Linked DNA regions of Homo sapiens: region 2 is linked to region 1. The links come from fine-mapping of genetic effects on gene expression. A gene starts in region 1. The other region holds a variant in brackets. All regions are shown on one strand. Distances are between the middles of the regions.

Evidence for each region. PIP is the estimated chance that this variant, and not a neighbour inherited with it, causes the effect.
Region 2: its variant is the best candidate, but not a certain one, in a credible set for the expression of GPATCH8 in whole blood (INTERVAL, PIP 0.55).

The regions. Positions count from the first base shown.
Region 1 is chr17:44,500,230-44,505,606 of GRCh38, forward strand. GPATCH8 (G-patch domain containing 8) reads right to left here and starts at 3,177. Exons shown (of 8, transcript NM_001002909.4): 1 at 3,097-3,177. The coding sequence starts at 3,141. RefSeq lists an enhancer at 2,911-3,010 and a silencer at 3,111-3,460.
Region 2 is chr17:44,432,783-44,438,159 of GRCh38, forward strand. GPATCH8 (G-patch domain containing 8) reads right to left here. Exons shown (of 8, transcript NM_001002909.4): 4 at 3,696-3,763; 5 at 2,283-2,369. Among named protein-coding and RNA genes, the nearest start is that of ITGA2B, 46 kb to the left of the region's middle. The variant C/CT (reference allele first, on the strand shown) is at 2,629.

The DNA.
Region 1 (5,377 bases):
TTTAGGCTCTGCCATTTAACAGATGTATGTAATTGGCTAAGTTACTTAATTCTCTGTGCCTCAGCTGAAAACGGCAGTAATAACAGTACCTACCTCGTAGGGTTATAGTGAAGACTATGAGATAAGACACATAAAGCCTGTGGAATAGGACCTGTTTGTTATTATAATAAAGTTACCAATTAAAAAAAGTTAGGTCCCTGATAATTATTAATCTCTATATACATGAGTGCTTCAAGTGGCATACCACTGTTAACTATAACTTTTCACTATATATACAAAATACCTTCGCAACTTTAGGTATTCACAAATTTTAATAGCCCAACTCCCTCACTCCATAATAATTTCAAGAGACATCAAACTCTCCAAAATTTGCACTTGATAAACCGGTAAAGAGTGAAGTTCTACAACTTTAAATCATCCTGCTAAATTAAAGGCAAAGAAAATAAGTCATCTCGAACTTACCAGAGAAGATGAACAATTTCCAGTGCTACAAGATCTGTTGAAAGCAACAAGATCTATCCACTGTGTTTGGAAACCTACTATGACTTGTTTTCAAGTATAGTCAGTGGCTTCACCCAAAACCTTAAAAGGAGGCCACGTTTAATTTTGAATAACCTGAAGCTGAAAATGTTTCAGATACATTATTCACAGGAGAATCCTATTACATTACATTCTCTCACCAATAATTTTGAATCAAAATACATCATTAAATGAAAGTCAATCTGTATTTTCCCTTTATTAAAACATCTAGAAAAATACCACTTTATTTTTCAATGAATGTACTTTAGAAATGTTAACATAATTTATAAAAGTTTTAACATCTTACAACTGTCTAAAAAGGTTTCCATTCCCAATACCCTATTTACCCAAAATGCTAGGACATCTGAATTTTAAAAACCAACATTTTCGGCCAGGCGCGATGGCTCACACCTGTAATCCTAGCACTTTGGGAGGCCGAGGCAGGCGGATCACGAGTCAGGAGTTCGAGACCAGCCTGGCCAATACGGTGAAACCCCATCTCTACTAAAAATACAAAAATTAGCCGGGTATGGTGGCGGGTGCCTGTAATCCCAGCTGCTTGGGAGGCTGAGGCAGAAGAATTGCTTGAACCCGGGAGGCAGAGGTTGCAGTGAGCCGAGATCGTGCCACTGCACTCCAGCCTGGGCGACACAGCGAGACTCCATTTCAAAAAAAAAAAAAATTTTTCCTGGCTGACCCAATTTAACAGGGGTTGGTTCTTTCAACATATAAGCAGAAAATGAAGTATACGTATCATCTTCAAAGGACTACCATGAAACCAAAATCGGGTTTTGCAATACCCAACTAAAGCATCAGAAGACAGGGTCATCTTACTTGGAAACTGAGTATTGAAAAAGTACAGGCTAACCCCCTGAATGTTTTTCAGGAAACAGCATTCACACTCTGCTATCCACAATTTTCAAAATCTTCATTAAAGGCCCTGAAAATCCTGTTTGCTAAGCCTGCTGGAATTCTGTGGTTGACAGTCATCTTCCCTCAAAACTTAACTGTCCATATTATCTATTTTCGATTTTATTAGGTCACCTTGAGATTATTCTCTCCTCTGAAAAGCATTTGCGGGCTTTAGTTATCAGTATGTCTCTACCGGTAATTTAAAAATCAATAAAGCTCATACACCTTGCAGCCAACTCATATTTTATAGTGCTTGCTAATATATATATATGTGTGTATATATATATATTTCTCAGGGATCAAAAGGCTAACATGAACTGCTTCAAACTTTGGTGAATCTGCATTATATCCTTAGAACATCCTGAGACTCTCCTGTATTGTGCTGCAGCTATACAGCAGGCGCATGATCACAAGGCTTTTTAACAGCCCCCAGATCCCTTACTGCTGCAAAACTTCTCATAAGCGTTCTATGTACTAGACTGTTAACAGTGCTGAGTTAAAATTGTTAAACTGCTTTACCTATTTATTTACCAATCCTATCATCTCAGGGAATTCAAACTCTTTAAACTGCCTTCTGAAACACATCTAGAGTGCTTTCGTACTGCTTTGAGTAGGATCTGCAGCGGGATAAAAACTTGAGTTCTGAGATTCATCCCGACCCAAATTGCAGTTGCCAGGATATGCGGTAGTAATGCAGTGTTTTTTTTTTTTTTTTGAGACTCTACGGATGTATTTTACCTAGAAATAGCCAATCTCTACTAAATCCCTTTTAGTCTTCGAGATTTCCGCGGTAACAATTTCAACAGAAAGGTATTTTCAACAGCGAAAAAACAAGTTATTCTAATTTGGCCTTTATTTTTTACTCAATAGAGCTTGCCATCGTAAGGGCATTTTTCCATACTAACATTTGCAATTGAAGAAAGAAAAATCAAGCTTTTGGCACTAGTGACCCCATGCGTGGACGGCCTATTATCATCACGCTTCTCACAAATCTTTCGAGATAGGATTTGAGGTTAGGCTCACATCGGATCATAGTCCAGTAACTTACTGCTTTCCAAGCCCAATTAACAGCCTAATAACAGCAACACTTATGCCCCGCGAAATCTCAATGTATGACTAACCAATAAGGCGTCTGATAGCGAAGGCAACCTTTTCCCAGGTAAGGAAGAGGAAAAGCAGACAATGAAAGGAATTGATTTATCACAGTGAAGAAAGAAAAGAGAAGGACCCCAAAAGGATCCGTGAGAGCAAAATCCCGGGGTTCGGAAGCCTTGGCCTCAGCAATACTCTCCCCCAAGCCCTCTCAGCCCAACCCAACCACCCCTCTTGTCCCCTGGGAGCCAGCCCTTCGCCGGCACAGATCGGGCAGACCTGGAGGGCACAGCCCCTCACACGGCGCTCAGGCCCGGTTCCGAAATCCGATGCCAAACAGGCGGAAGCCGCAAGCCCCGCGGCCTGAGTTTCAGGGGTAAGAGAATGCGGGTGCGAGGAGATGCGGCCTCCCTCAAGCCGGGAGGCCTCTTGAGAAAGCAGAGACGGGAGAAGAGCGAGCTGGTTCGCAAGTCGGAGCAAAACTGGAAGGAAAGAGGGCTGGGAGCCGGAGATGAAGGAGGTTCTGGGCTAGACCAGCGCCTTCCCCGCATCCTCGGCGACGCCCGTGTTTACCTGAAAGTCTCGGTCTTCGTTGAAGCGGGAGAAGCGGTCCGCCATTTTGCCGCCTTCACTCCTCTCAGGACGACGCTCTCCGGTTCGCTCCTTCCCTCCTGCGACACCCACCCCTCCCCGGTTCCCCGCCTCCTCCCACGCCCACCGGGCGCGCGCAGCCGAGGGAGGGAGCGAGAATGCGCGTCCTGACGGGAGCCCCGCGGCGCAGGCGCCTGCCAGCCCTGGAGGCTGACCCTTCCCTCTAGCCCCTGCTCCGCGCGCGACCCGGAGCGACCCCGGTGGCCGCGCGTGCGCACTCCCGCCCGAGAGCCGCGAGAGCTTCCGGAGGGAAAGGTCAGAGGGGGCACCGTGCGGACAAATCTGGATGTTTTGCTGTTGCTCACTTCCGGGTGTCTTTTCTCACTGTTGCTTCCCCGTGTGCGCAGAAGTCCATCGTCTTCACTAAATAGCAGCATAATGTTGGGCCGAAAGCGCGACCTTAGAGCCAGACTGCTTAGCTTCGAATCTCAGCTCACCCTGAGGATTCAACGGTGAACGAGACAGGAATGATCTCCTCTTATGGGGATTTCATTCCAGTGGAAGAACTCACATAACTCGTAAAATAAATATTTTTAAATATCAACAAGTGCCACAAAAAAGTAAAACTGGCCACAGTGCTGAGAGGGACAGTCTCTGAAAGGACCTTTGACCGAGGCACAGCGAGGAGCCTACAGCATTGGGGCATAGGGAACGTTAGACCCAAAGGCCCAAAGACTGCAAGGAGCTTGACTTCGAGCCATCCTTTGAGAGAAGTATTTCACAAGGGACCGAAGTTGATCCAGATCGACTAAAGCTCTCTGGGCTTCAGTTTCCTTTTTATACAATAGGGAAATTGGATTCAGTAATCTCTGATGCTCCTGCCTAGCGCTGACTATGAGAGTCAAGAATCGGATTTTTCCATCCCTTCTGAGGACCTCACCCAGTGCTCCAGGACTCTTAGCCAAAATACATAAAACACATAGAAGGGTGGCAGGACTTCTCTCCTTTTGAAAAGAGTAGTTGACAGAAATCACACAATGGAAAAATGGGTCTTACCCTGCCCTGAAAGAGTCAAATGGAATGTAATTTTTTGAGGAAGGGTGTGTATTTTCTAGCTGTTACCCTTTGCCCCACCCATGCTTCAGCCTACGCTTCCATCTAAGGGGAGGCAGGGCACACAGAATTCAAACATTGTATTCTTTTTTTTTTTTTTTTTTTGAGACGGAGTCTCGCACTGTCGCCGGAGTACAGTGGCGCAATCTCGGCTCACTGCAACCTCCGCCTCCCAGGTTCAAGAGATTCTCCTGCCTCAGCCACCCTAGTAGCTGGGATTACAGGCGCCCACCACTAAGCCCAGCTCATTTGTTTTTTTTTTTTTTTGAAAAGGAGTCTCACTCTGTCGCCCAGGCTGGAGTGCAGTGGCGCGATCTCGGCTCACTGCAAGCTCCGCCTTCCGGGTTCACGCCATTCTCCTGCCTCAGCCTCCCGAGTAGCTGGGACTACAGGCGCCCGCCACCAAGCCCGGCTAATTTTTTGTATTTTTAGTAGAGACGGGGTTTCACCGTGTTAGCCAGGCTGGTCTCGATCTCCTGACCTCGTGATCCGCCTGCCTCGGCCTCCCAAAATGCTGGAATTACAGGCGTGAGCCACCTCGCCCGGACTTTTTTTTTTTTTTTTTTTTTTGTATTTTTAGTGGAGGCGGGGTTCACCATGTTGGCAAGGCTGGTCTGGAACTCCTGACCTTGTGATCCGCCCGCCTCAGCCTCCCAAAGTGCTGAGATTACAGGCGTGAGCCACCGAGCCTGGCTCAAACATTGTAAAGAGACTTAAGGGTAGCGTGAAAGATTGAATCACGAGGATACACATCACACTGACCTCTTCTTCCTCTCAAAAGCCCACTGAAATGACAGCAGAGGAATAAGAAGTGCATAAATTCACATGGACAAAGAGACCTGGAGAAGAGACAATGGCAGACAACAGATGTCAACATTTTGGAGGCCAGAGAGCACAGATAAATGGAAATGACTTTAGTAGAGTGGAGAAAAAGAAGTCATAGAGTAGGAGAAGACAGGAAAGAAGTTGATCAATGCTAAAGTGCACCAGAAAGGCTCAGGAAGTAGAAGCCCCTGGTGCCACTGATGATTCGATGTCTCTTTTCCCACCCAGGTAGCAAACTAGAGGTTTTCCCTCTGGAAAGGCTGAACCAGAGAGACTGGACTTTATAGGTGAGAAGGAGCAACCATGCTGAAAATGGGAGGATATG
Region 2 (5,377 bases), 67 kb before region 1:
ACATTTAAGATTTTAGAAACAGTGTAGTTCAGAGTTGACAGGGTTTCGGAGTAAATATTTTGATCAATAAGATGGGGAAAGTAATTCTTGCTCTTGCCCAGGCTGGAGTGCAGTGGTGTGATCATAGGTCACTGCTGTCTTCAACTCCTGGGCCCAAGTGATCCTCCCAATTCAGCTTCTCTAAGTAGCTGGGATTTATAGGCATGCACCACCAACACCTAGCTATTTTTTTTCTTTTTTCTTTTTGTAGAGACAGATTCTTGCTACATTGCCCAGACTGCTCTCAAACTCCTGGGCTCAAGCAATCCTCCCAAAGCACAGCCGTGATCCACCGCACCCAGCCGAGAAATAATTCTATTACCAGGGAGAGAGCATCTCAAGATACTATGTATAATCTTATGAGGCTGTGAATTACTGAGGTATTTCATTTATTTTTCACTCGACAGTGTAACTTTTACTTGAAAAATAAAAATGTATTCTTTATAATGTTTATATTTCAGACAGTACATAAAATGAATCTGGCTTTTCTCACTATTTCAAAATATTTATTCATTCAACTAATATTTATTGAGTACTTATGCACCACACACTGTGCTGGATGCAGGATATATACTGGCAGACAAATAGACATACTCTCTCTCCTCAATGCCCTTTCTGACTAGTACAGAAAGCAGAATATAAATTAGTGAATAAAAATTTATAATTACAAATTGTAAGAGAGGTTGTTGCAAGAGAATAAGGCAGAGTGGTTAATTATTTAAATGAGTTGATTAGGGAAGATCTATAATGAGGTAATATTTAAGCTAAAACCCAAAGGAGAAAATTTAACCAAGTGAAAGATGATGAAACATGGTGTCATGACCACTCTTGTGCCTAGAGAAAGAATGTAGCCAGAAAAAGAGGGCCCAGGTCTGAAGCTGAGGAACTCCAATATCTGAAGTTCAGGCAGAATAAACAGCAGCCAACAAAGGAATCTACATAGAAGCAGCAAGACAGATAAGAAGCAACTAATCTAGGAAAGTATAAATTCTTCAAAACCAAGAGTAATGAAAATGTTTTAAAGAAGAAAGAGTATGCCAGGCGCAGTGGCTCACGCCTGTAATCCCCACACTTTGGGAGGCCGAGGTGGGCAGATCACGTGAGGTAAGGAGTTCGAGACCAGCCTGGCCAACATGGTGAAACCCCATCTCTACCAAAAATTCAAAAAAATTAGCTGGCCGTGGTGGCTCATACCTGTAGTCCCAGCTACTCGGAGGCTAAGGCACGAGAATCACTTGAACCCGGGAGCAGTGAGCTTAGATCACACCACTGTACTCCAGCCTGGGCAACAGAGTGAGACTCAGTCTTTAAAAAAAATAATAATATTAATAATAATAATAAAATAAATAAATAAATAAATGATTTATTGGATTTAGCAAATAGAAGTGTTTGGTGGCCTTGAATAAAGTGGTTTGGTGAAAACTGCTAAAGTCAGTATAAATAGGCTGAAGAGTGAATAAAGAGAGAGGAAAGGAGAAGAAAAAGGGGAAAGAAAAAGGGGCAGGAAAAGAAGATGAGTTGGTTATATTATAGTTCTGGATAAAATAAAACACACAAAAATTTAATATATAGCTAAGCTAAGTTCAAAAACAAGAAAGGGGGTCAAGCGCGGTGACTTACGCCTGAAATCCCAGCAAACTGGGAAGCCGTGGCAGGCAGATCACCTGAGGCAAGGAGTTCAAGACCAGCCTGGCCAACATGGTGAAACCCCATCTCTACTAAAAACACAAAAATTAGGCTTGGCGTGGTGGCTCACGCCTGTAATCCCAGCACTTTGGGAGGCCGAGGCGGGTGGATCACAAGGTCAGGAGTTCGAGACCAGCCTGACCAACATGGTGAAACCCCGTCTCTACTGAGTGTTGGGGTTACAAGTGTGAGCCACTGTGTCTGGCCTCTGCAAGTGTTGGGGTTACAAGTGTGAGCCATTGTGTCTGGCCTCAAAGGACTTTTAACAATTTTTACTGCTACCACTACTTGAATACCTACTATGTAACAGGCATTGTGTTTTCAAACACTAATTCATGTAATCTTTCTAACACACTTTAGAAGTAGGTATTATTATCTCTATAGTTTATACAGAGCCAATAAATAGGAATGTAATAGAAATCTGAGATCTACTACTAATTACCACCAAATGTCAAACAAATGCTGTTAGCAACAGTGATGATTTTCAACAAAATTTGAGTTCTTTCTTATTCAGTGAGCACCTCCCCATCTCCCAATGAATAGCTTTGTTTAAATACCTTGTACTTTTGTCTCAGCTCTTCTGTGTCTTCTTTTTCTACTTCTAGGACACGGCGCCGTTCGGTAGCATCTTCAGCATAATCAAGCTTGACAAAAATAGATATGATTAGATTTAATTCCTAAAGTACCCCCAAGATTAGCTATGAAAAAGTTATTTGCACAACTACAGTATTATCTGAAAACAAAAAAAAATTGTAATTTTGCTTAGCTACTGCTTGCTTTATTGTCACCTCACAGAGAAAATCACATGCAAAATAGTTTGTTACTTTCAGGCTGGTAGTTTCCAAAAGGCACATTTGTTGAAAGTAGACTTCACTTCAATGTTAATTTTCTTTTCTTTCTTTC[C/CT]TTTTTTTTTTTTTTTTTTTGAGATGGAGTTTCACTCTTGTTGCTCAGGCTGGGGTTTAATGGCATGATCTCCGCTCACTGCAACCTCTGCCTCCCGAGTTCAAGTGATTCTCCTGCCTCAGCCTCCTGAGTAGCTGGGATTACAGGTGCCCGCCACAATGCCCTGCTAATTTTTTTTGTATTTTCAGTAGAGATGGAGTTTCATCATGTTGGCCAGGCTGATCTTGAACTCCTCACCTCAGGTGATCTGCTTGTCTCGGCCTCCCACAGTGCTGGGATTACAGGCGTGAGCCACTGCGCCCAGCGACTCCTAATTCTTTGAAAATTGAGGCTGGGCACAGTGGCTCACACCTGTAATCCCAGCACTGTGGGAGGCCGAGGCGGGCGGGTCACCTGAGGTCAAGAGTTCAAGACCAGCCTGACCAATATGATGAAACCCTGTTTCTACTAAAAACACAAAAATTACCCGGGCATGGTGTCATGCGCCTGTAATCCCAGCTACTTAGAAGGCTGAGACAGGAGACAGGAGAATCCCTTGAACCCGGGAGACGGAGGTTGCAGTGAGCCGAGACTGCGCCATTGCACTCTAGCCTGGGCAACAAGAGCGAAACTCCATCTCAAAAAAAAAAAAAAAAAAAAAAAAAGGAATTAGGAGTCAATGAAGAAAATATTTTAGGCAATGAAAAGCAGGTATTACAGGTGACAGCCGTACCCAATTCTACAAAGGCAAAGCTTTTATCACAGCAACATTTTAAGAGCTGAGCAACACTGCCTACTGAAGCAAGTACCAAGGTCTGGATCTAAGTCTGATATTGCCTTGCTGTATAACCCTCGGCAAATCACTTAACTTCTTTATGTGCCAGTTAAAACAGCAGCTCTGTTTATATTCTATTTGTCTCAAAAGTAGCACTAAATGAAAATGTAAAATATATTTTTTAGTCATCCAAAGAAAAATATTAAAACTACATTTCATCTGATAAATGTATTCTTGCACAGACATCTGAATTTGGAATTAGTATTATTTCAAAATATCTCACAAAACTTATGAGTTAATGAGATCAATTTACCTCCATTTCCATGCGACCCATGCCCATGACATCATACTTGACAACGATTGGAATGGGATCTGTTCTCCCTGTAACAGGAACACATAATCAAGGTAAGGTGCAAAGCCAAACCAACAGCTCATTTTACACATTGGGTTTTGGGTGGTTAGAGATCTTGCCTTGGAGTGCAGAGACCAGAAAGCTACAGTGAACCAAACACAAGCCATTCTCACAGCTTACACTCAAGACCTTCCTTTCCTAGTTTAAACCCAATTAACCACCTTGGCTGACGTCCAGTTGGGATTAATTTCAAATTACTATGGCAAAATTACATTAATAAGTAATGCAAAGCACTTTTAAGCAATGGCATCAGGAGGTTTAAATTGTAAAACTTTAAAAATTCCTTTTAAGATCCCCAAATAACTTCCCATCAAGTATCACTTTACTCTGCCCACTGATATCCTCCTACACAACTTTTTAACCTAGTTTAAAAAAAAAAATCTCAACTGGCATGGTTAAATAGAAAAAGTACATTTTTAAACATGATGCAGTAAAACTTTATAATTACAACTCAGTATGTTGAATTTGTTTTCAAAAGATGCTTTACAATTTTTTTTGATGTTCCTCATAGACTAGGAGATGCTTTACAATTTAATGGGGCTGTGAAAAGTTTAAATAAAAAGAAACAATTAGTTGCCCTTAGAGAAAAGAATAGTTTTCCTTTTAATCTGGTGCTCTAAAGTCCCATTTCCTAGAGTGGATTTAACACTGGCTGCGAGGGTAACTGGTAAGCTGTGAAAAGGACTAGTTGCGAAGAAAATTGACTTTAAACTAATTGATCTATGCTGGATAATTTTTTTAATAAATATATATTTAATCCACTCATAACCAGCCAAACAAAGCAAAATGGGGCAGACAAGCACTTTACTACCACAGCTGTTTTACATCACAACCTGCGCTTTTTATTGTGATGTAAGCCCACTGAAAAGAGGACTTACCTTATCCGTTGTACACCTTTAGTGAAAAAACACAATGTTTACTTCCCTCATCATTTCACTCAGGCTGGTGTAAACAATTGGTTTTTTTGGTTGTGTTGTTGTTGTTGTTATACACACACACATATATATATACATATATTATACCTTTGGGCTAAAAATGGAGTTTTCTTAGGCTAAATCTGAGGCATTACCCTCCCAACCCCAAAAAAAACTTTTTAAAAAATAAATGCCATGATCATGACTGGTTTTGGTCCTGCAAAATAAAGAAGAAACCATGTTCAAAACGACCACAACCACTTGTACTCGGTGGCTCTATATTTGTGGAATTAATTTTTGCCTTTAAGATGGAATGAAAAACAAATTCATAAGTTTAACTACTTATGTATCCTATTATTGTTTTTAAACAATAAATAGGGAGAATTAGAATTATCACAGTAAAAAAACAAAACAAAAAAACCAAACCCAAACTGTTAAAGAACATCTCATGTCAGAAAAAAAAAAAAAACAAAACAACAACTTCTAGAATACAGCCTTCTTTTAGATACAATCAAAGGACTGCCAGTAAAGCAAAATGAAAATGCATTACTACCCTATGCCCAATGGTATAATAAATAAGCAGTGACTGCAATCTTTAGCAAAAGGACCAAATTAAAGACAGGTTATAAAAATGACTTCCTAGGTGCAATATCACTTTCATAACGTCTC